Linked DNA regions of Homo sapiens: all the other regions are linked to region 5. The links come from fine-mapping of genetic effects on gene expression. A gene starts in region 5. Each other region holds a variant in brackets. All regions are shown on one strand. Distances are between the middles of the regions. Region 1 has its middle 68 kb from the start of TMEM170B. Region 2 holds the start of LOC124900221 (small nucleolar RNA SNORA67). Region 3 has its middle 35 kb from the start of HIVEP1. Region 4 overlaps LOC107986570 (a long non-coding RNA gene). Region 5 holds the start of HIVEP1 (HIVEP zinc finger 1).

Region 1 (5,104 bases), 410 kb after region 5:
CCTTGAAGCCAGTGCTCTGAAATGGCCAGTTTCCATCTTGTCTGTTGGTAGAAGAAAGGCTGCAAAGAGAGACTTCAGGATTTTCCCAAGCTCTCTTTTCCCAAGATTCTGTGAATTTCTCCGTCCATCTCCCAGGGGCAGGAATTCACACCACATCAAACCTCCCGACAATGCTGGCAGCGTGGCTGGTGTGAAAGAGACTCTGGACTTGGATCAAGAAGGGATGGAGTAGAGTGAGGCTGAGATCAAAAAGCAGGAAGAACAGCCTGGGGAAAGAGCTGGGGAGGAGCTGGCTCTGCTCTTTGCACTTACACCGGTTTCTACTGGACCAGCTTTAGTTCTGCAGCATTTTCCAGAAAGCCTTTTCCTGGCAACGTTGAGATTATTTCTAAAATAAACACAAACCACTTTGCATCTCTCTCCGTAGGCTGTGATGAACAGAAAGAGGCCTTGGAGAGCCGTGGGACTCAGGAGCTGGAGCCAGGCTTGAGACGGGGTCCAGAAGGAGCAAGATGGGATGCCTTTGGACTGAGACCTTAAATTCCACCCAGTTTATTACAACCATGCTCACTCCTCTACCTGCCCTGCCCCAATCGGTGCAAACTGCCTTCTCCAGTCTTGCTTCCTCTCTAATCCATAGGTTGTCTCTGTTTTAAGAAGGCAAGTGGCCAGTGAGAGCCTTAAACTACCTTAGTGTTCTCTAAATAAGATATGCCTCCATGGAGTTGTAAAAGTGGATCTTTGCATGTCACAAAATCACATATGCATGCCAGGGCCCTTTTTGCCATGGTGGGGAGTGGAGGGATGCAGTGAGACATGCTATATATTTCTTGTCTTTAAGACAACAATCTTGTTAAGAATGAAGACCAATTCTAATTGAATCCTAAATTCCTTTCCTTACCAACTGCAACAAGAGATGCCAATGCAAATCTATTTCTAGACTGAGATAGCTTCAAATTAAATTTGGAATAAAATTTCAGGAGAAGGGTCATTTCTGGCTTTCAAAGGCAAACCCAGAATCAGGCAGCCCCACTTCCTGTTAGGGTCACTTTCCCCTCTGAAAATGAATGATACATGGAGGCAGGGAGATGACAGGTGTTTAAAATTTAAACCATGTTGCCTGGGGTGGGTGCCGATCCTGGCATGCCGCCCTGGCACCCACATGATAATGAGGTGCTTGGCTGGAATCTCTGGCTGAGGGCTTTTGTTGGAAAAGGTAGCAGGCAAGCCCAAATAGCTCCCCAACAGATATAATGGCTTAATTATTACTTTAATCAGTAAGGCCGAGGTTCCTTAAAGGGCAGCTTCCTTCCCTTAGTTTTTTTCATCCCACTGGCTGCACTCACAGCTGACTGTTCTGAGCACGGTCCTGTAACGAGAGGGCACATGGCCAACTGGATCTTAAACCAGCTTTGTGCACTGTAAACAAGATGTACTCTAATTATAAAAGAGGGTAAATGGAAGAGCCCAACAGGCGGAGGAAATTGAACATGGGTACAGAGTCGGTTGACTCAGAGGTTAACTACCCATTGAAATGGAGTCTAAAATGAGAAGCGACCTTTCTTCAGCACGGTTTTCATTCCATGCTTGATCCACAAAGGAACAGATACTCCACAAGATAAAGGCACCCGTGGCTAGCGGACAGCCTTGACTTGGTTCGTTGGATTTTCACAAGCTTGCCAAAAAAAAACAAGGGGGTGGGCGAGGAGCATCTGCTTTTTACAAAGAGACTGAAATGTAAAATTAATGTTCCAGGTCTTGTTTTAGAAACATGCACCTCAGAGCAGCTAGGCTGCACTGTTTCTGTCTGAAAGGTTAGGATGGCTCATTTCAACGACCCATCCCACCCTCCCACCCTGCCCCACCTGCCTGCATTCAGCTCAGGGCAGCTTCTAAATAAGCCTCTTTGTACAAAGCCAGCGTGCCTTGCTTGCTCTGGGAAAAACTTGATAGTAGTGGCTTCCCTCCTCTCTGCCCAATCGCATTTCTGGAAAATGGATTTTCAGGTTTCAGTTTCACCCAACTCTACCCAGGGCTTGTTTTCCTGGAAGGTTCAAGTTTTCTTTGCAGATTTTTCCTGGGAGGCCTCAACTCTTTCCCCAGTCCTGATAGCTTTAAATTCTATTTTCAACCTTTGCACACGATAACCCTTTTTGTTCTCTTGGAGCCCTCATGCTGACACAATGCCCTTCCTCCTTTATAATCTGTCTGTCTTTCTATATATTTATCTCCGCAGGAATGTAGCACCAAAGAAAGAAAAGTTAGTAACAGGGTTTACTCCCTGCAGCCTAGTTGGCTGTTTATGTCTCTCTATACGAAGTATTCACCCCAGAAAGGAATGTGTACAGCTCTGGGCATCCCAGAAAACAAGCCATCCCAATGCCAGGTAACTCAGTCAAGCACAGAGGGAACTCATAACAGATATATTTTTCTTCCTTTGTTTTAGAACAAATGATGCCCGTAAGTGCTCAAATGTGAGTGGGGAAAAAGGAGGGTGTTAGAAGAAACAAAATAGTGGTGTTGCAACCGTGTTTTCTTCCTTTCCCAGGGCTCTGTGTGCACCCCACCCTCATGGCAGCCCAGCCAAGAACAGGAGATGATTCTTGACTGAAGGCTCCAAAATGACACCCCTGTTTTTGTTCTTTCCTGGGGTTCTCTGGGGACAGTGGCTGCCTGAATAGCTTCTCCAGTGATCAAGAGGTCCTGTCTGTGGTGTTCTGATGAGTTCTTTGTACTCTGTTTTCTATTCCAAGTTCCTAAAACAAAGGTGATGCATGTTTAACTGAGTATTCAAAAAAAGAAGCTTCTGGAAGCTGATAAAAATTGACTACTGTCAGTTTAGAGGCAGAATCCTTAGTTTGCTGTTTCTTCTTCCTCTT[CTTT/T]CTTCTTCTCCTCCTCCTCCCCCTCCTCACCCCCCCTTCCTCCCCCTCCGCTCTTCCTCCCCCACCCTCCTCCCCTTCCCCTCCTCGTCCCCCTCGCCTTCCTCCCCCTACCCCCCTTCTCCTCTCCCCTTCTCCTCCCCCCTCCTCCTTCCCCCTCCTCCTCTCCCCTCCCTCTTCTTCTTCTTTTTTTTGCTATTATATTCTTCCACAGAATCTTTCACATATCTGTGATGAAATTTTGAAAGTCAAGAATGTGTCTAGGGACCCGCGTAATAGTGAAAACCTGCTGATCACGGCCCTCCTGCCTCTAACCATGACAAAATCCACAAAATCGTATGTATGTATGACTTGCCCAAAGCACAAATTCTGATCCGTCTGTCCTCACCCCTTCCATCTCCCTTCCCTCCTTCCCACTTTACCAGCTAGTTTAAGTCATCCTGGTATTACTGCTTTTGCCAGGGGATTAAATTTCTTACTGCAATAAAACCTTCTCTTCCATGCTACCCTGTGAGGAAGCACCCGTCCTAACTCTATGGTCAGCCCCGTACCACCCAGCTGATCTCCTGGAGATAAGCATCAACTCTCTGGTGCTGACAACTTCCTCATCCTTCTATGTCCAGTCCATCAGCCCCAGACAGGGTGCCCTGCACAGTCAGTCCTGCCACCCCAATACTTTAGGTCATTTGGTACCTTGCTCCAACTTAGGAGGGCGACTTCTTGGTTACTCTGTTACTTTTCTCTCTCACCTCATGCCCTGCAATTGTGATCAACTGATAGGTGCTCTGGCCCAGCTTTCCAGGGCATGGCCCTTGTCATGTGTCTCTCCAACTACTCCCTGGTTGGGTCAATCCAAGACTCTGGGAATTCAAGGCCTGGCCATTACCAAGCCTACTAACTTTGTGGATGAGCCAGTGCTCATGGGAACCTGGTTTGAATTCTGATCAGGATAGTTGGACCTCAGCGTTGGTGAAGTCTTTAGGATGGGACTTGAAAGGAACGATCTGAGAAGGAAAACCAGATTCTCCATCACCCTTTTCTCATCTGATCTAAGAGCCTCTGCTCCTAAGATTCCTCTGTAGAAAGGCCCAGTCTTAAGAAGTGACTTTGGTTGGCTGAGAGACCCCAAGAAGTAATCCTCTGTGTTATTTCCAAACGGTAGAACCAAACTCAGGGTCCCAGTCAACCTCGCCTGGCACTGGAAAAAGGATGATTAGCTGATTGGCTGCTGCTGCTGGAACTCACACAGATGTCCTCTGGGTAGCTCAGCATTGCACATGAGCCCAAATAAGTGCAGGGATGAAACAGAGTCAATGCCTTCTGCAGCAGTCATCCCAATGCAGGTGGATTCAGTCAACATGTATCCCATGATGGGTACGTATTTTAAATCACTACAGGAAATGAAAAACCAATAGTCATTGCAGAGATAAAGACAGACATACACAAATAATAAAGGGCAGAGTGTACATTATTAATAATGATGTGTAATTACAGACCCAAATAAAGTGCTGTAGGAGCACAAAGAAGGAAGAAGTGACTTCCATTGGGAGAGAGGAGCAGAAGAGGGTGGGGAAGTGGGCTTTTGTCACCCAGGCCTTGTGAGCAGGATCTCAAAGAAGCAATTCTTACTAAATGAACTAAATGAAAAGTCTTTTGAGTGGCTATTTTTCTTGACTCATAGCTGTTGCTTCAGAACCTCTCCTGTCTTATATAATTACAGATTTTGAGGTATCTTGGAGGAAGGACTCCTAGGCAGGACAAATATTCTAAATATCAAATAACCAGTAAGGCACAGGCAATAGCCATGGAAATGGGCATACTGTGAACAATGGGCACAGCTGGGCTGGTGCACACCCACTGATATCATCCCCACTTCCAGGGGCCATTCGCAGAGGTAACAGATAAAGTCCAAAGAAGAAAGAAAAATAAGGCTAGAATGTACATATAGAGAAAATGAACAAAGCCTGTACATTTGGAAAGAAGCGGGAGTGGGAAGGGCAGGAAGATTAGGAAAGAAGACACAGGAATGATTTCAAGGGTATGAGAAAAATCAAGGCAGAGAAGTGCCACTGCAGCCCGGGAAACACAGTTTGAAAAAGGGGAGGCTAACGTGGCATGGGGAGGGGGAGGATCATGATTGAGGAAACGTCCTTTGGTCCAGGCATCCAGGAAGGCTGAGGTGGAAGAAGTCGGTGAGAGAGAGTGAGGGTGAGGCTTCTGCAGGT
Region 2 (5,104 bases), 300 kb after region 5:
TGTGCAATATCTCTTCCAACACTAGAAATGTCTCGGAACAATTTCCCATTGAGCACATGCCTAAGCACACAAGGGCATGCTCGGTGCTGCAGTAGCTTAAGAAAAGATACACAACAAAACAATAACACACTGATTAAACATTTGCTAAAAGGTATATGGTATTTGCAGATTGCATAGCACTATGTTAGGCCCTTAATAGAAAATGACAACTATAGCAACCACATGATGATACCAGCAATATTTGTGTAGTGTCAAGTAATTCATCACCACTCCCACTTATTCTAGCCCACGGAAACTTCGTAAGTAGGAGATGAGTTACGTTCTCATTTTACAAATGAGCAAACTGAGTTTCTGAGGGTGGTGTGCTGGGAAAGGTTTAACAACCAGCTCTCTGGGGAAAAGATGTCAGGCTCTGATTGATAATGTGTGCTCATTTCCATGGTGTAAACACTCTCCCCATGGCCTTTTTCAAGCTGGCAGCACGTTGCTGAATGTACAGTTGGGAAGAGATGTGGACAACCACTTAGTCCTCGAGAGCCTGTTGTGCAAACTGGCTCCAGCACACCTCTGCGTTCAGAGCAGGGAAATGACAAGTCCAAGGTCACATGGATAGTTGACTCCTGAGCCCACTTTCCTTCCTCTTTCTTACAGAGCAAAGCAGTACCGGGTCATCCAAAAACTTTATTTAAAAAACAAAACAGAAATGTGTCCACATCTTGCAGAGCTGGACAAAAGAAGGTGGTCAAGAGATCCCAAATTGGTGGAAACTGTCCCCGTTACAGGAGGAGGAAGGACGCTGCCACCACTACCCCAGGGACTGGCCTATACTCATGCTTCTGTTCCAGTGTTGCTGTCTCACATTTGAAACCAATTTTGAATTTGGGTAGAAGATTCGTCTTGTTGCCTAAACAATGCCTTAACCCCATTCTCTCCCCAGAAGGGTCCTACATTTCTTAAGCTATTTTCAGCTCCTCCACACCTACTCACTTGCAATACTTGTCATAACAGGAAGCCAGTTTCATATACTGTAATCCCCAAACACATTGCACCCACACGTGGGGAGCGTGAGGGGCTGAGCGAGGAGCGAGGAGGCCAGGCCTTCCAAAAACTGGAGGGGCTGAGCACTGAGCCGCTCCCAAGGTGGGGCGTCTCCACTCCCAAGCCCAGGATTCAGAAGCCAGAATCCACATCCAGACATTCTTGTTTTCCTTTCTCATGCAGTTGCTGGTGACTTTTTTTTTTTTAATAAAGCATTTGAGTAGGCAGCAAAGCCAGTCAGAACTGTTTATTTATAGCTGTGGATATTCAATGCTGTATAAATTAGAAATCGTTGCTGAATGAGGCCCGCGCCCACTCATACACGCAGGGCCGCTATCTGTGAGTCCTTTCACAGGGTTTGACTGTACACGGTCTAAAATGGGAGAAAATGACATGCTCCGAGTCAAATGACGGAGTCACAGCTAAACGGCAAAGCAGAAAACCAGCAATTATTTTTCCCCAGCACAATATGGGGAGTACGACAGGTGCAATTATCCAATATTATTTAACAGTACCGGTTTGTGATGTAGGGAGAAAATAAAGGTTTCCGTGTCTTGGAGAGGAAAAAAAGAGAAAGAACATGCCTTGCAGCTCCTGTTTCTATGGATTAAGCTGGGTTATGTACATGGAAACTGGCCAGGATTCCAGAAGGGGAAGGGAGAACCGCCTGGCTCCCTGGCCCTTCCTCCCAGGAGGCTCTTGAGGAGCAGCACCACAGGGGGCTTCTGAGCAAAGGTGCCCCCAGCCTTGGGATACTGTGGCCTGAACACCCTCTTCCCCAGGCAATGGCTCCAGGTAAGACTGCGGGGAAGACTGGGTTTGCTGAGCCCCTGTCCGCTTAGAAACAAACTTCCCTCCTGCTTTTGACTCTCTTTCCCTCCATTGAACTACAATGAGGTCAAAGAGCGTGTGATGAGAAGGTGATCCACAAGGAATAACTTTCAGCCCCTTAACCAGGTCCCCTTTCCCACTTCCAGCACGTTATTATTCCTCCTCCCAAGCCTTTGCTTAAACTGGTCACACTCCCTAGAAAGACCCCTCTTCTTGTAGCTACTGTGGAATAAATAAGTCAACCTTCATGGCTTCCGACCTCACTGGAGTGCCACTTCCCAACTCTCTGAAAAAGCTTTTCCTTGCCCCTCCGGGGCATTTGGCCGGCTGCCTTCTCTCAGTTCTGCTAGTTAACAGCTAATCAGCTTCACACACTATGCCATTGCTCTCTCCTTCACGTATCCTCCTGGCTTCTGTTTCTGGAATGGTATGGAATGCCATGCCGACTAAAGAAAACAGTCAAGCTTTTAAAGAATTAAAGTTAGTTGTATTCAGAAGTCTTACTGAGGACTACAGACCAAGGCCTACAGCCTGGCAACAGCCTGTCAGATCCTATGAGACTGCTCCAGCCCAGGATTTCAGCCCACTGCTTACAGACAGGAAGTGGAGGTTCAGTACCTGCACAATCACATCAAATTTGCTCAGAATTTCCGTCGCAGCAGAATCCCATCAAGGCTTGGGTGTAAGAGCGCATC[C/T]GGTTGTAGATTACAGAGGCATAAACACTAACCCTGTTAAAGGTTTTGTCTTCAAAGCATCTTTCCAAACATCTTCACAGTCCAGGGCTTTTGTGAAATTCTGCTGGCAAGCAGAAGTGAGCAAAAGGTGCTTCTCATATTTGCTCCTTTGTCTCACAGCTGGAAAGAAGAGAGGCTTCAGAACCAGACCAGATCTGAGTTCAAATTCTGACTCCCATGGCTGGCTATCTGTATGGAACCTAGAGAAAATCAGTTACTTTTTAGAAAAATGTATTATTCACTTTTTATTTGTTTAAAAATATATAACAACTTCAGCATGTGAATAAGAGGACACAGTCTATCCAGAAGGAGCTTAAGTATGCTATGTAGGCCGCCAGAGGAACGCAAAAGAAGTAAGCATCCCCTGTTCCTTAAAGACCTTAGGCATGCCAGATTTTATTCCAACTTGCTACTGTCCTAAGAGAGGCACTAGTCAGCCCCTTGGAGAGAGACTCACCTTGGATAAAAATAGTTTACTCCTCTGAGCCTTGGTTCCTTGTCTGCAAAGTTAGATAATGATACCACCACAATTAAATAATAAGATTATTTAAAGTGGTGGATGCAAGTGCCTGGCTCCCAAGATCTCCGTCTGATATAGTTTGGGTGTTGTTTCCTCGAAATCTCGTGTTGAATCATGATACCCAGTGTTGGAGGTGGGGCCTGGTGGGAGGTGTTTGGATCATGGGAGTGGATTTCTCATGAATGATTTAATGCCATCTTCTTGGGGCTGGCCTCGCCATAGTGAGTTCTGGCGAGATCTGGTTGTCTAAAAGTGTGTGGCCCCTCCTCCTCCCATCTCTCTTGCTCCTGTTCTCACTATATAACGTGCCTGCTCCCCCTTCACCTTCTGCCGTGATTGTAAGCTTCCTGAGGCCTCCCCAGAAGCCCAGGAGATGCCAGCACCATTCTTCCTGTAAAGCCTGCAGAACTGTGAGCCAATCAAACCTCTTTTCTTTATAAATTACCCAGCTTCAGGTATTTCTTTATAGCAATGCAAGAATGGCCTAATTCACCATCCCACCTGCTTGATTGCAAACTCCCGGGATGAGGGGCCGTGTCTACCTCTTTATATCTCCAACAAAGCCTAACTCTGCACCATTAGAAAGTACTCAAAAATACAGGCGGACTTGAGGATTCCTTATAGCTTCTTAACCTTACAGGCATCATCACCAGTTATCTTCCACCCTAGGCTTCCCTGGAAGCTGATAGTCTCAACATTAGAGTTATTGTTTCATTTCAGATACTCTCTCCATCTTACATACCACAATTCTATTTACAGTGACGAGCAAATTGCAGTTTCATGTGGACTGGTAGTGAATGAACATTGATAGAATAGGACGCATAGCAGATACATTTGATGAAAAGGAGAAGGAGATGAGGAGTGGCCTGGAGGATAAATGGCTTGCGTGCAGGGAAGCTCTAGAGTGGATGACTAGATGGCCCTAATGACTCAAAGGAGAGCCTATGAGCTACTAGGGTCCCAGTCCGGAAGACTGATCCTTAAACAGGAGGTGGGGGGATGTTGAAGACAAACCTTGTTTACATCATAATTCATTTCACCTTAGGTGACTTCTCACCCCTTCCTGACGGATGGCAAGTGTTTATCATTAAGGCCCAGTCTAGTCTGACTAGCACATCATCGTTACCATGATGTCGTCAGCCTCTTGCATGGTGTAGTTATTTCGGGGCCATGAAAAGGGCCTCTGTTCTCACTGCCACCCTAAATATCTTGCTAATGTACAAAAAAATTCTTTCACCAATAAAGCCGCCCATTTCATATGGAGAGCCAGATTTAACATGTAAATACTTCTGAAAGAAGTGACCTATGAAACTCATGCATGTTCAATTCTCAGTGAAGGATATCTGATGATTTGAAAGCAAGTTTTAATGTGAGGGAGGGCGTGCTTGGCAGAGCGAAAATGAGGATATTGTTAGTAAAGGAACAGGTGCGGAAGGGTCAGCTGCAGACTCCAAGGACAAAACTTGCCTAGTTCATAATTTTTCACCGTGTGAGCTGCCAATAGATGCAGGTTATGATTGTTCTGCACCCCTCCCTGAGAGAGCTACTTGGTGGGTAGAGCACCCCAAAATGAAGTTGGCCCATGATTTTGGCAGCTGGTAGGTCAACTAAATTCTGCGTGCCCTTGGAGGGGTGGACAGAGGGGACAGAGCTGTGATGTGCCACTCTGTTTCCAGCCTTGATTATCTGGCTGGCACTACAGGAATTTAAACTTGCTTTATGTCTTTTATTTATTTATTTTTTGAGCCGGAGTCTCATTCTATCACCCAAGCTGGAGTGCAGTGGTGCAATCTCGGCTCACTGCAACCTCTGCCTCCCAGGTTCAAGCAATTCTCATGCTTCAGCCTCCCAAGAGGATGGAATTACAGGCATGTGCCATCATGCCCAGATAGTTTTTGTATTTTTAGTAGAGACGGGTTTTCACCATGTTGGCCAGGCTGGTCTTGAACTGCTGGCCTCAAGCAATCTGCTTGCCTCAGCC
Region 3 (5,104 bases), 35 kb after region 5:
CAAATCACGTTCTTTAAATTGATAGACTGGAAACCTTTCTTACAGCTTCACAACTCATAATAGATAATATCATGTAAATTTTTAGTGTTGTTGCTGAATTGGGAAAACCTCTAAGTTTCTTCATATATGAAGTGGAAGACCTTGGGGCATTTCAAGTTCTCCTCTATAAAGTCTAACCTTAAGACATTCTTTGAATTGGTTACACTAATTGAACAAACTGTCCTTGGTGGTATTGCAATGTTGTATTTTTTTACATTATTTGTATTTATCTTTCTTGATGTTTGTATTTCCTGACAAATTAGTGAAAAATGTATTTTTTTTTCAGCTTGTTACACTCCTCTTTATTAACTGGAAAATCAAACAATTCTATGGTGTATTCACCACTTACATTTCAAATTTATCTCTTTATTTTAATGAATTCTGTTTTCAGTATTGGGTGAGGGGTTTTTGGCTATATTTTGCTTCTAAATGTCAGAATTGTTTCTACTGACATATTGAAATACACAGCACATACTTTTATTGTATGGACATATACAAAATTATATATATTGCATTATCAAGTTGGAATTATTTTTGTGCATTAACAGGAGAAAATTTCTGTTATGGCTAGGTATTGATGAAAACCAAACCCTGTGCTTATAATTTTGCAGACTAGCTCCCAGGTCTGTATATTTCCAGCATATTGTTATTCCTGGAAGTCATTGCTACAGAGACATAGCTAGAAAGAACTAAATTGTACTCAGAAATGAGAGCAAACTACATACATGCATACTACTAAACTAAATGTATCTTAAGTTCAATTTCCCTTAGTTAGACCTCTAACTGCCTTTAGTCTCTGATGTCATTTAACATGAAGTTCAGTGTAATGGACCGGAAGTAAAAGTGAAAAGAAACTGAATGTTGTTAAAGTATCTGACTTTTGGAAGATTTATGACCAGAATAACACATGACTAGGACTCCTTCCAGAGCCTTGAAAATGGCCCATATAAGTGAGGATCCCTGGAACCTAAAGTTTATGGTAACTCTTTTTCTGACATGTAAAGGCAAGCTGGTAAAGAAAATACTGATCAGTTAAATAAGATAAGCACTATAAACAATGGTAACCCAAGTATGCCATTTATAGTTAAGAGGCAAATGACAAATGAGGGAAGTGACAAATACACACACAACCACACACATACACATACACATACACATACAAGTGAGTGTGGCAAATACATAAATGTATATGACTTTTTAGTATATATGTGGCAAATAAATATACATGGCATATATATGCTATGTATACATATCAAATATACAAACATTTTAGAAGATCTTCTGGTATCACAATGAAATACAATTATTTACTGTTGTTTATTTTAAAACAGAAGTGCTAAGATCTGGTTGCCTTTAAAATTTAAAATTACTTGAGAAATTCCTAATATGCATTTTTTCTAAGCAACATGTATAAAGTAATAGATAAACCCTACTATAATTGTGTTTGAACATATTGTCCAAAAATGATGTATAGATAATGCTGACATTTCCAAATGATCATCTCGAAATTTAGCCAGTATCATATAGACAATAACATATAAAAAGAGAAGGGGAAATTAACAAAGTCATGGAGAATAAATAATAGAAAATGCATTTTAGGGTTGGGCACAGTGGTGCATGCCTCTAATTCTAGCATTTTGGGAGGCCGAGGTAGGCGGATCACTTACCATCAGGAGTTTGAGACCAGTCTGGCCAACATGGTGAAACTCCGTCTCTACTAAAAATACAAAAATTAGCTGGGCATGGTGGTGCACACCTGTAATCCCAACTACTCAGGAGGCTGAGGCAGGAGAATCACTTGAACCTGGGAGGTGGAGGTTGCAGTGAGCCGAGATCACACCACTGCACTCCAGTCTGGGCGATAGGAGCAAGACTCTGTCTCGGAAAAAAAAGAAAAAAAAATGCATCTTAGGAAGATGCAGAAAAAAATAATCAGAAACAGGGAATTGAAGGAAGTGGAACAGATGTACACCAACGAAACTAATCACTCTACTGGTCCCAGCTTGACCAAGAGGTGTCAT[G/C]TCTGACATCAGAGTGAGGGCCAGGCCTAACCAAGCGCGGTGATCTGTGTGATAAAGAACTCCACACAAAAACTTAAAAACAAATTTTGGGAAAAGACAGGCCCTGAACTGAGGTGAATGGTAGCATGCAGATAATTCTTTTTTTTTTCTTCATTGCTGTTTAAGTCACTCCTTTTCTCAATATTTACTTTGTGTAAATCCTGATTCCTCCCTGGATTAAGTCTTTTTACTGCATATCATTTGGTATTGTAGGGAGAACAAATGCTGCAATTGTAATATTTGCAGTATGCTTTTGTCATATTTCATTGTCTATCATCTCTTCTGGTTTGAGGATGCTGATAATATTACCTTTTCCCACAAGTACTTATAATGTTCAAAGGAAGAAAAATGCCAGCCAAGTTATCCTTATTTAATTCAATTAGTTCCTTCTATTCAACAGGTACATGCTGAGGCCAAGAAGTATCATGTTCTTTGCTGGTTTCTGGGGATACCTAGAGTAGGTCTCCCTGGCCATGTGATAGTTACATACACTAATCACAACACTGTATGATAGGAACTATAATGGAGATATCTGATCAATTATATGGCAAATCAGATGAGAAAAGTGTTGATTCTCCCCAAAGGGACACAGTTGAGCTGAGTGGAAAGAATAAGACATCATATGTCCACTGTGGGGGAGAAGGGGGCAAGCAGGAAGTGAAAATATCAGAAAAACATAGAGAAGTGGCTGATCACAGTGCACTCAGGGATGGATCTGGTGTGGACAAAGCAAAAGGGCCCCCATTCGGGGCTAATCTCACTGTCCTCTGGAGTGGTCTTTCTCTCAACTCCTAGAAAAACTAAAAGCACAGAGAAGCCACTTTCAGAGAAACAGTGGAGGCCAGAAAACAGTGCTTTGTTCTCAGAAGGAAATGTATTACACTGGCTTCTTTACTCCTGGGAAGAGGTGAGCAAGGGAAAGAGGAAGATCTCTGTTGCTCTCTATCTGAAACCTGCTAGGGCTTTTCTTTGCCTTCTAAACACAGTTCAGCCTCCTGAACAGCACATACAAATCTCTTCATAATATGAAACTAGTGTAGTATCTATTTGCTATTTTTCCAGGTTTATTATGGCACAAGAAACATCGTTTCAAGAACTTCTTGGCAGAATCTGAGGTAAAAAGTAAATAAATACATAAATAAATAAATAAAATAAAACTTTTATAGTTGAAGATGCTTGCCTTTAGTGAAAACACCAAATTCAAGATTAACATGTTATAAAACCATGGTTTTTGCAAGTTGAGGCACTTGAACACTGCAGACTTGTGAAATGACTGAAATTGGGAAGAGCCAGGACAACACCCCTCATTTCGCCCTCGCCAGAGGCAAGAAGGCAGTGGAGTGGGAACTCCTAACTCTAAACATGCCAAGTGCAGGTGAGAGCCCTGTTGCTGAGGCAGGTCCTTTGGCCTCTGAGAAGAGAAGCATTGTGGTGCATGTTAACAAAAGACTAATTTTTATTGGGTTGTTAACTTGGAGGATGAGAAACATTAAAAGATTGGCAAGAAACAGGTCAAGGAAAATACAGTTCGGTAGAGAGCTGAAGAGGTAAGCTGTGACTTTAGCCCTGGCCGCAATCTGAATGTGGTCAAACAAGCAGTGACTCTGCAGAGCCCTCACCACAGAGGAGATGACAACCTTCTGCGAAGACGGAAGTTAGAACAGCTGCTTCCTACTCTGAGGGGACAAACAGCCACGTGCACTGAAGGACACATACAAAGTCCTCTGAAACATGAGTAATATGTGAATGTGTGTGGGTGGTATACGAAAGATTTTGTTTCTTTTATTTTTCTTTTCTTTTTTTTTTTTTTTCTGAGACGGAGTCTTGCTCTGTCGCCCGGACTGGAATGTAGTGGTGTGGTCCCCGTTCACCGCAACCTCTGCCTCCCAGGTTCAAGCGATACTCCTGCCTCAGCCTCCCGAGTATCTGGGATTACAGGCATGCACCACCATGACCAGCTAATTTTTAAATTTTTTTTTTAGTAGAGACAGCGTTTCACCATGTTGGTCAGGCTGGTCTCAAACTTCTGACCTCAGGTGACCCACCAGCCTCAGCCTCCCAAACTGTTGGGATTATAGGCATGAGCCACCACTCCCAGCCTTGTTTCATTTTTATAATAATAAGCTAGATGCCAAAAATGCATGCTCAAGTCAATGACTTTCTCGATAAGTCAATGTTAGGGCCACTCTTGGGGCCATACATCCCACGTCATCTTCATCATCATCTCTAGAACTCACAAGTGAGCTCGTCATCACTCCCTTAGTGCTCATCCTTGGGGGGACATTCTCATTCCCATCACAGCAAACAGCTCCACAGTCTACACAGTAACTTGGACCAGAAACCCAGGAGTCATTCTAGATATCTCTTTGTGTCTTTACTTTAACATACAGATTACAGTTTACATCTATATCTTTGTTTACCTCTTTCTGTAAAAAACTGATATAGCTACTCCATCATCAGAGTGTAAGCTCATTGAGAAAAAGCCTTAATCCCATTTCTGTATGTCTAAGACATCATGCACTATCTTGAACACAAAACATGTTTGTGAGCTGAAATAATACTTTTACACCCAAAAAGGTTTAATTATATACCACATAATGTATGTAAGCATTCAAGCATTTTCACCTTGTTTTTTTTTTATAAAGTTCAAAGATTTTAAATGTTCGTAGTCAAAGATCAACACTCCTGTCCTCTATAGGATGGTTTGTTCCCTAATGGCTATGCAGAATAAAAAGTTCTATGGTACTCTCCTGCGATACTGGCAGGTCAGATATTTTCACTCACTGGCAGTAACACCTCAAAGTGTCATTCAGGCCTGAGGATGGTCCCTTTCTATTTGGGAGGTGTTCGGACCATCCATATTCTTAAACAGGCTCACTCAATAATTACACAGCACTATGTATCTGAAGACAAAAAATTAATAACTCTTCTAATTAGTGCAAAGAGAATTGTTTGTAGATTTATCCACCAAATGTTATTCCATTACACATAAATAAATCATGATT
Region 4 (5,104 bases), 51 kb after region 5:
ATAGATGGATGAATATATAGATAATAGATTATATGAATGGGATAGACAGATAGACAGACAGACAGCTAGATAGATAATAGGGGATTTACTATGAAAATTGGCTTGCATAATTATGGTGACTGAGAAATCCCACAATAGGCCATTTATAAGCTGGAGAACCAGGGAAGCTGATAGCATGGCTCAGTCCAGGTCCAAAGGCCTCAGAACCAAGGAGTTTGATGGCATAACTCTGTTAGAGGCCAAAGGCCTGAAAACTGAAGGATTGCTGATGCAAGTCCTTAAGTCTAAAGACTATAGAACCTGGAATTCTGATGTCCAAGGGCAGGAGGAGGGTGCCCCAGCTCCAGGAGAGACAGAGAGAGAGAGAGAGAGAGAATTCACCTTCCCTCTGCCTGCTTGTCCTATCTGAGCACTGCCCACATTGGTGAGGGCAGATCTCCCTTAGTCTACTGACTCAAATGCCAACCTCTTCTGGAAACATCTTCACAGACATACCCAGAAATAATGCTTTATCAGCTATCTGAGTACCCCTTAATCCAGTTGAGTTGACGGCTAAAATTAACCATCACAGAAACCAATTGGAAATGGCTGCATACTGTATGATTCCAAATCCATGACATTCTGAAAAAGCAAAACTATGGCGACAGTAAAAATTTCTGTCATTACCAGAGGTTGGTGGGGGAGAGAAGGATGAATGGGTGGACCACATAGGATTCTTCTTAGGGCAGTGAAACTATTCTGTATGATACTACAATGCTAGATACATGTCATTAGACTCGTCAAAAAACACAGAATGTACAAAACCAGGAGGAAACTTTGATGAAAACTGTTGACTCTGGGTGATAATGATGTGTCATCACAGGCTCATTGATTGTAAAAAAAATGTACCACGCAGGTGGGGGATGCTGAAAATGGTGGGCACTGAGCATGTGTGGGGGCAGAGGGTCTACAGGAACTCTCTGTACCCTCTGCTTAATTTTGCTAAAAACTTAAAACTGCTCTAGAAAATAAAATTCATATTTAATAAATAAATGAATAAATATAGTATGTTTTTTAAAAAGTCTCCAGACATTGCCAAATGTCACCTGAGGCCAAACTTGCCCCGGGTTGAGAATCACCAATTAAATTTTAGGCAAGTTATATGAACAGTGGTTACAAATAGTGATGTGGTGATGAAGGAGACAGCAGGTGATGTGATCAAGAGTTAAAGAGAGTCACTTTATGCAGCATAGTAGCTAACCCTCATTTAAGGGAGGAAACATTTAAGCTGAGGCTTGAATTCTAGAAGGAGTTAGCCATAGGCATAGAGAGAAGACATCCAGGCAAAGGGAGGAAACTTGCAAGGCTTTGAGGCAGGATGGTGACTGGGACAGCTGAGGTGCTCCCTGTACAATAGTGACAAGTATGGCAGCAGGAGATCAGGCCAGAGAGGTGCCTTCTGAGTCACATCAGGCTGTGCCATTTCCAGTCGTGATAGGGGACTGCAAATTTAAACTGAGAGTGATGGCCAGCCCCAGAGGGTGTTAAGCAGAGAACGTCATAATCTTACTCACTTAAAAAAAATGAGGGATTTAACATTGAAACCTTGATGTGATGATCAATTTTATGTGTCTCCTTGGCTAGGCTATAGGGCCTAGCTTTTGGGGCAAACACTAATCTAGATCCTTCTATGAAAATTATTATTATTTTGAGATGGAGTTTCACTCTTGTCGCCCAGGCTGGAGTGCAGTAGTGCGATCTCAGCTCACTGCAATCTCCGCCTCCTGGGTTCAAGCGATTCTCCTGCCTCAGCCTCCCGAGTAGCTGGGATTACAGGTATGCTCCACCACACCCAGCTAATTTTTTTTTCTTGTACTTTTAGTGGAGATGGGGTTTCACCATGTTGGCCAGGCTGGTCTCAAACAACTGACCTCAGGTGATCGGCCCTCCTCTGCCTCCCAAAGTGCTGGGATTACAGGCATGAACCACTGCACCCGGCCTATGAAAATTATTTTGCAGAAGTGGTTCATATCTACAATCAGGTGACTCTGTGTAAGGGAGATTGCTCTCAGTAACGTGGGTGGGCCTTACCTAATTGGTTGAAGGCCTGAAGAGGAAAAATGAGGCTTCCTAGAGAGGAAGGAATTCTGCCTAAGACTCTAACATAGAAATTCTGTCTGAGCTTCCAACATTCGGGCCTACCCTGCATATTTTGAACCTGCCAGCCCTCCCAATTGTGTGAGGCAATTCCTGAAATTAAATCTCTTAGTGTATATCCTGTTGGTTCTATTTCTCTGGTGAGCCCTGACTGATGCACTTGGCTGCAAAGAAATTGTGGCCAATGATTAGATTTGATAAGTCCTTCAAGGACAAGGCCTGTGGCTTATTAAGCCGTGAAATTCCACCTCTTCTCTCAGCAGTTTGGATAGATGAAGCTGACATTGAGGTCTGGATTCTGGGAAGGCCTGGAGGGCTAACATTTGATGGCCAGAGAACTTGTGTAACCCAAATGCTCAGTTTGGAGACTTTATGAGACTTTGAGACTCAGCCCTGCATCCTGGGGCCATGTCTGTTCGTCATCCACTGCTCTGATATGGAGCGTTGTATATCACAGGGGATCAACAGGAAGCCAACTCCCAACCCTGCACCCGGTCCACAAAGGAGATCAGCAAATCTGCAGCACTGTGGACTCATTCAAAATCCGGTTTTTTCAATGGGTTGCTGGCCACAATTGTTTTTTCCACTGAGTCTGCATTTACCTTAGGCATGCAATCATTTATTCACCCTGTCAATCTTTCAACATAGTTC[T/C]GCAGTACCTGCTGTTTGTAAGGTTCTATTCTAGGTCCTCAGGATCCGATTGAACGGAAGTGAAGCCCTACCCTCATGAAGCTTTCATTCTAGTGGTGATGATAGGTAGAAAAGAGGCAAACCAAAAAAATAAACGAAATGATTGCAAGTTGTGGCACGCACTGTAAGGGAACCAAAAAAGAGGCTGAGAAGGGAGTGGTTACAGAGTGGTTAGAGAAGGTGTCTTCAATTCACAAGTTGAAATCTGGAAAACAGGGAGAGGTTTGACCACGTGGAGGGTGGAGGAAGCATTCCAGGCAGAGGGTGCAGGGTTAGAAAGGCTCCAAGGGAGGAAGCAGCTTCTCACTGTGAAGGATCTTGTGGAAATAAACGAAGACAAAGCAGATGAGAAAAGCAAAGGCTGTTTATTCCAAGCTTGCGGTAGCAGGGAGTCGGCTACCATCACTTGAGTTTTGGCAGAGGCTCAAAGGCAGTCAGAGGAGTGGGGAAGCTTTCATCGTGGAGAAAAGGGAAGGCTCCGAAAGTGTGCTGATTGGAAGCTGTTGGCGTGGGAAGCTGGAGGCGGCTCACTGGAAGTGGGGCATCAGGTGCATACTTGGCTTTCTCTGGTTGTTCTTCTGTTGGAAGTAGGGCCAAAAATTAGGGAAGCTGTCAGTTACTCATCAGTCAAGTCCTGGCCACTTTGGTCCTGTTATTGAGGTGTTCTTTTCTGTCTTCCTGGATCAGTTGCTAGAGACAGTGGTCTGGCTTCCTACAAGTCTAGCTTCTAGAGAGCAGGCTGGCTTCCTTGGTTGGTTCCTCTGGATAATGGGCTGGCTTCCTGGGCTGGTTGCTGCAGGTTGAGGGTCAGAATTCTGTTTTTATTTATGATCTAGCCATTGCCCATTTCTATAGTCAGACTCTCAAATCTGAACACACACCTCTGTGTTGGGGAGTCTGGAGTGCTGGGGAGAGGGGCACTTGATGAGGCTGGAGAGGAGGCAGGGGCCTGATCATACCAAACCTTACAAACCACAAGTCAGGGCTGGAGCTCCTTCTCATATAATGGGGAGCTACTGAAGGGTTTTGAATAGAGGAGGGACCTGATTGGATTTGCGTTTTAAAAGGAACACTTTTGTTGCTGGGTGCCTTATGGATTTGAGAGGCAGGCAGTGCAGAGAACAGTCAGGAGGCTGTTGCAAGAAACCAGACATAAGACAACGGTAGCTTAGACTAAGGTGATGGTATCTCAGCTGCATAGTAATCTGTGACCAGGAATCTTTTCTGAGCAGTTAATCATTTGGATATAATTTAGCTACCTGTCTCTCTCCTATAGGTGGTGATTGAGCTGCATGTTGACTTGTTATATTATTATTATGAATTAATAAGTTGGCATTGCAGTGCACACATAAATCTGTCAGGAGTTTATTCAGTATGAGCCAATTGCTAATCACCATGGGTGCGTTTACAAAATTATCCTTAGATCCAATCAGTGCAGCGCAGACACAGTGGCCACACTGTGTTCCTACCACACTGTTTGTGCAGCCATTTGGCTTCCCAAAAGGGCCCTATATCTATCCCTATATCATCATTAGTATCTTGAAATCACACAAATAATAGTTATTCCTACTAACCTTCTTCTTGCTAGGCATTTATATCCCTTCAGCATATTTCTGGGTCCGATTATTCTGGCTTGTTTACTCATTCATTCATTGAACACCTACTGCATGCCAGATACAAGGCTCAGCACTGGGAACATAATAGAAGACGAGACAGGCACGGTTCCTGCCTCCCTTCAGTCTATACGGGAAAGTGGGGGTTGGGGGAGGGGTCATTAAACAAGCATACACTCAAGTGAATATATAATTATACATGTCTGTAAGTGCTATAAAGGGAAAGATCAGGGATCAAAATGATGGAAATGGGGCTATTTTAGATTGTGTGATCAGGGAAGCAGTCACTGATAAATATTTAAATTGAGGCATGAATGATGAGAAGGAATCAATGCAGTAAAAATCTGGGGAAAGTGAGCATGAAGTCTCTGAGGAGGGAAGCGGACAGGGAAAGGAAGCAGCGCTGGCTTGGAAAGTAAGGAGAGCAACTGACGAAGAAGGTGGAGAATGAGAGTGTGTCTGGGCGAGAACTGCTGTCTTGAGGGTCAAGGCAGCACAATTCCCTTAAACAGAAATGGACAAGGCTATTTAAATTTTTAAAAGATCGCTGTGGTTGTTATGTGGATGGGCCGTGGGGAAAGAAGTGAAGGCTGAGAGAAGGTTGGGAGGTCATTGTGGTTGTCCTGGTGAGACGTGTCAGTGGTGGGACCAAGCATGGAAGGTAG
Region 5 (5,104 bases):
CCCAAAACCGAATCACCTATCTCCCCAAATCAGCCACCTCAGGCTCTTCCACAAGATTCTCAAGGATCTTAAAGCTGAAATTTTAACTTACTGCAAGAAAACTGAGAAGCAAAGCCCACTGTCACTGTTAAACATGAAACAATGTTTAGTCATTAAGCAAAGACACAAGAATAGAACAGTAAGGAAGGCTTAAAGCTTTTGTTATTAGTGGTACTGTAGAAGACAAGAGAACACTTATGAGCACCTACTATGTGCCTGTGTACTTTCTACACATTCCCTAATTTAATCTGTTAACTAAGAAGGTAGCTATCATTTATTCATTTTACAGATTAAAAAAAAATTGGATAAGTAACTTGTCCAAGATAAACAACTAAAGAATGTGGTACTGCATGACTCAGTTATATCCAGTGCTTATTTTGTGGAGCTGATAACATCTACTTTCAGGATTTCTTTCAAGAGGCGCAGCAAGTCATGACGACTTATCTTGGTGTCAAACCGGAGTGGGTTCAAAGCCAGGCTTTACCCCTTACTGTGTGGCCTTGTTCAGGTTACTTAACCTCTCTGAAGATCAGATTTCCCAACTGTAAAATTAGGAAATATTATCCACATCAGAAGGTTGTTATAAGGACTAAACTAAACATTGTAGACGCTTTGCCTGTCACACAAAAACGCTGAACTATTAATTCTCCTTAAGAAAGCCTATATGGGAAGGAATGTGTCTAACATCCCAGTATAAGGTTTTAGAAATTTATGGTTTCATTACAGCAAAGAAACAGAAGGTAAAGAAGGCCACGATTAACTTCAGTATTTTATCCCTGATCTGGCTGTATGTCAGCTCAGCACAAAATTATTTGCAATTTTTAACTACATGGTAAAATAATACAAAAAAAAATGATGGTCTAAGTATTTCATCTAGCATTGTGCTAAGTGATCTATAAAAGATAGGGTTTCTCAGCTCCTTGCTCTAAAGAAACATCCACTATCTAATTCAGGAAGGTTCTGATTCAATAAAGAATTGAGACACAGCTGAACCAAATAAATTGCATGAATGCTTAACTACGTTCGTTGTTAAACTTAAAGCTTTTAAATGGTAACGATATTTGGAAGTTTTTAAAGCGTGAACTCTGACTGTAATCCAATCATGTGATCCCATGGGATCCGGAGCATAAATGTAAAATATGCACATTCCCTGTCCGTAAAGGCTTTCTGCTACCCCGTTCATTGCCTACCCACTGTCCCTAGCTGTCCATCCCATATTTAAATCCTTGTGGGGGGAAGTGGGTATTTCCAAAGACAGCAGCATTGTAGCGACTAGGACGAGTGATAAACCGTTCCTTTACGGGAAAGAAATAAATACTACATGGAGCAAAAACATGACACGATCAAAAAGCGTAAAGACAGTTGCAAGGAGAAAAAACATGAATGAATGTGGAGGGCGGAGCCTGGGAAAACCCCTCTGCAACGCTGCACTGAACAAAGCGCTTCGCATGCCAGGAGGAGGGGGGGAATGGAAGTGCCAGCTCAGGAAGGAGCCTGGAGTGGATGCAGAGAGCTGAGGAGGAGGAGGACGAGATGAGGCGAGCGCGGCAGCCCTGAGACTCCTCCTCGCCGCCTGCTCCGCCGCCGCCCCCTCCCCTCTCCAGCCAGCAACTCCTTCCCGAGCCCGACCCCAAGGCGAGCCCGAGCCGACCCGCACCCCAACCCACCGCCCCCTTCCCAACTGCAGCTGGCGCGCACTCCCAACCCGGAAAGAAACTACCCAGGTGGCCGGGAGTAAACAGGCACTTAGAGCAAAGAACGAAAGGGAAAGAAACCCACAAAGCCGGGAGGTTGGGATGCCGAGGCCTGGTCTCTTTCACCCCCCACCCTCTTGCAAAATGCGTCTGCGGCTGGAAGGCGGCTGGGGAGGCTGGGTCCCTCTGTACCTGCTCGGCTCGCGCGCGGCGAGGGCGCCCAGAAGTGCCAAGGGTCTCCCGCACGCAGCCATCCCCTCTGCAAGGTCGGCGGTTGCACACACACGCACACACACACACACACGCGCGCCCGCACGCCCCCCGCCCGCCGAAGGGATGTGCTCCTGCCCCCCCCCCCCTCCGCCCCGCCGCCCTCCCCAGCTGCAGCGCCCCCGCCGCGGAGCCCGCGCCGAACCTGCTGCCAGGACGCCCGGCGGAGCCGCTGCCGCTGCAGCCGGCCCTGGAGCTGCGCTGCTGATGGCGGCGGCCGCGGCTCGGGATCTCCGCGACCCCCGCGCGGCGGCGGCGGCGGCGCCTGGGATCCCTCCTTCACTTGACAACCCCAAACACAAACATAACCTCCTCCGGCGGCCGCCGCTCCCCGGTCCCCCGCTCCGTCCGCCACCCTGCCGCCGCCCAGCAGCCGCCACGCTGAAGGCCGGCGACTGGCGCTCACACCACCCAGCACTGAAATATTAAACAGGGGAGCGGGCCGGGGGGCGGGGGGGGGAGCGCGGGGCGCGCGGGCGGGGGCCGCAGCCGCCGGGCGGAGGAGGCGGCGAAGCTCGCCGGCGCCCGGAGCCACGGCATGATCGCGGCCGCCAGGGAGCCGGGCAGCCGGGCTGGGGGGCGCGCGCCGCGGCGGGGCGGGCGGACAGACCCTGGGGCCGCGGGGCCCGGGGCGGGAAGGACGGGCGCGGGCTTTACCTCTCCCCCGGGGCAGAGTAGGGCACGTTTAGCGTCTTTGGGGCCGGCGGGAGGAACGCGGGCCGGGCGGCGCGGGGGAGGCAGGGCGAAGGTCGGAGGCTTTCCCGCGGGTGGGCGGGGCGGCAGGGGATCCCCGGGGGCGGGAGGAGGGGAGGCCGCGGGCGGCGACGCGTGGGCGGGGGAGGGGGCGTCCCCGCGGGGGCTGGGGTTGAGGCCGGGGCGAGGGGCGCGGGACGCCCAGGCGCCGGGGCCCAGCTGGGCCGGCGCGGCCGCCAGCTCTGACCGGGTGTAGGGACTGGATGGGCGCCCGGCCCGGCACGAACCCGGAGCCAGTGCCCCGGGTCTCCCCGGCGGGGCGGGCCCCAGACCGCGCCGGCCCCGCCACCTACCCGCCGCTTCGCCCCTCCCCGCCCCGCCCGGCCGAGCCGCCGCAGGGACGGGAGGGGGACGCGGGAGGAGGTGGCAGCGCAGCCCGGGGGGGAGGGGCGGGGTTAGGGACGCGGGGGGCGGGAGCCCTGGGTCGCGACGCCTGGGGAACCAGCACACGGCGGGGGCGGAGGGGCGGGCCCGGCCAGTCACGCGGCCCCGGGAAGGCCTGGCGGGGTCGCTCAGTTGGGGGCGGTTGGTCCGGGAAGAGGGACGGGACGGGCGGGGCCGTAGTTTCTCTTTACCGTCTCTTTACTTTCTACAGCAGGATGTGGGCCGGCCGCTGACGTCATGGGGTCTCCCGGCCCCGCCCCTCGCCCGGGCAGAATGGGGGAGGGGGAGGCGGGGGGGGGGGGGGACCCCAAGGGGGTTTCCTCAGCAACGCGTAGAAGGAAGGGGAAAGTCATTGTGAAACTTAAAACTCATTAACTTTGAAAAACAACTTTTAAAAAAACGGAGGGGGCAGGGTGTTGGTTTGGAGAGTGGAAGGGGACATGTTAACCCTGAACTGAAACCACTTTTTGGTGGCGGATGTTCTATTAAAAGAGCGAGGAAAGCCAAGGTTATTCCAGAGGCCGCTCCAAAGCCCCGCTGGTGCTTCCCAGTGCCGAAGCTGCGAGCGCAATTAACCCCTGCCTGCCAGCCTGACAGCTTATAGGGCCAACCCGGGAGGGGACTTCGGGGACAGAAAAGGGGGGTGCGGGGCTGGTCGTCGGACCGGGCTCCAGGGAAGAGGGGAGAGCGTGAAAGGGGAAGAGGGAGTAATTAGCATGAACCAAGGTGTGACCCCGGCTGCTAGAAAGCAGTAGAGAAAGCAAGGAGTGGAAATCCATGGCAAAGCAGTGAAGAGGGGCTGGACCAGGGTAACGAAGGTTTTCAGGGTTAGACCTAAAGAACGTTCGCAGTTTGGGGCACAGAAATTCCACAGGTCCACCTCAAGAAGCAAAAGTGGCTGGTTTAACGGGCCACCTCAAACTTGAGAGGAATAAGGTGAAACAAAATTGATGCAAAAAAAAAAAAATCCCTGATGAAACTAAACTGGTTTCCCCTTTTAAGGAATAAAAATGCTAAACGACCATACAACCACTAAGACAGCTGGCCATCTGTGCAAACTTGAATTGTTTTGTTCCCTTGGGCTTCCATAACGACGTCTAGGTTTTTCCTGCTGGAGTTGACCCCTAAAATTCCCCTGAGGAAATCGTACCTCTGGCTCATTTGAGCTAAGAAAAGCTCAAACCACCAGAATGGGAATGATTAAAAATGGAATACTCAGTAATGGCGAGTGTGTAGCCAAAAATAATATCATGTAAAGGGAGAAATATGCCTACTACAAAGTAAATTTGGTTATAAAAGCAAAGATCATCCAACTGTGTACATGTACAATTATGTCTAGCATACTAATGCTAACCCTACGATGAAATAATGCAATTTTTATTTTCATTGTGCTATAACCATCTCTCATTTGTGAAATGAAATGATATCCAATAGGTTGCAATCACCAAAAAAGTATATAATGTAACTTCCCAACTGGGTTATTTGAATCCAAAAGTAAACATGCATTTAACTGTGAACGTATAGCTATTAATCTGTCAGGAGAAAGGTAATGTGATAATGAGTGAAGTTTGTATCACTTTGGAAGTGAAAAATGCTAACTGAATGAATAACGTTTAACCCAATAATTGTTGAGCACAACATACTGTCAACACAATGTTTATGTAGGATTCAGCATTACTACGAACTTTCTAACAAAACATACATGCAATTTCGAATTACGATAGGTAAATTTTGACATTTCAACTATTTCCTTGAGCAGCAAACCGATATTAAACTTTTATTTGAAATATATACAATACAGAATAGTTTCCTAGTAAGTTTTTGAATTTTCTAAATGCAGTTTCTTTTCCTAATTCTGCCTACAATTCTTCCCAGATATCAGGATGCAGGGAAACCTGGCTATACTATAAAGTAGCTTCTTTAGGCTTGTTTTGTGGCAAATCCAATATATTTTCTCAAAATGT

Evidence for each region.
Region 1: its variant is fine-mapped to the expression of HIVEP1 in whole blood (INTERVAL, PIP 0.98).
Region 2: its variant is fine-mapped to the expression of HIVEP1 in T cells (TOPMed, PIP above 0.99). The same link has a PIP of 0.9 or more in blood mononuclear cells and whole blood.
Region 3: its variant is fine-mapped to the expression of HIVEP1 in whole blood (TOPMed, PIP above 0.99).
Region 4: its variant is fine-mapped to the expression of HIVEP1 in nasal epithelium (TOPMed, PIP above 0.99).

Annotation. Positions count from the first base shown.
Region 1 is chr6:11,602,768-11,607,871 of GRCh38, reverse strand. No RefSeq gene overlaps it. Among named protein-coding and RNA genes, the nearest start is that of TMEM170B, 68 kb to the right of the region's middle. The variant CTTT/T (reference allele first, on the strand shown) is at 2,880.
Region 2 is chr6:11,707,782-11,712,885 of GRCh38, reverse strand. It overlaps LOC340184 (a long non-coding RNA gene), which reads right to left. Exons shown (of 3, transcript XR_001743973.2): 3 at 2,487-2,803. It overlaps LOC124900221 (small nucleolar RNA SNORA67), which reads right to left and starts at 3,067; the gene lies at 2,926-3,067. RefSeq lists an enhancer at 1,197-1,246. The variant C/T (reference allele first, on the strand shown) is at 2,565.
Region 3 is chr6:11,974,359-11,979,462 of GRCh38, reverse strand. No RefSeq gene overlaps it. Among named protein-coding and RNA genes, the nearest start is that of HIVEP1, 35 kb to the left of the region's middle. RefSeq lists an enhancer at 780-1,009. The variant G/C (reference allele first, on the strand shown) is at 2,061.
Region 4 is chr6:11,959,071-11,964,174 of GRCh38, reverse strand. It overlaps LOC107986570 (a long non-coding RNA gene), which reads right to left. Exons shown (of 4, transcript XR_001743976.2): 4 at 3,173-3,619. Among named protein-coding and RNA genes, the nearest start is that of HIVEP1, 51 kb to the left of the region's middle. The variant T/C (reference allele first, on the strand shown) is at 2,788.
Region 5 is chr6:12,009,611-12,014,714 of GRCh38, reverse strand. HIVEP1 (HIVEP zinc finger 1) reads right to left here and starts at 2,403. Exons shown (of 9, transcript NM_002114.4): 1 at 2,149-2,403. RefSeq lists silencers at 2,249-2,388, 2,569-3,478 and an enhancer at 3,808-4,352.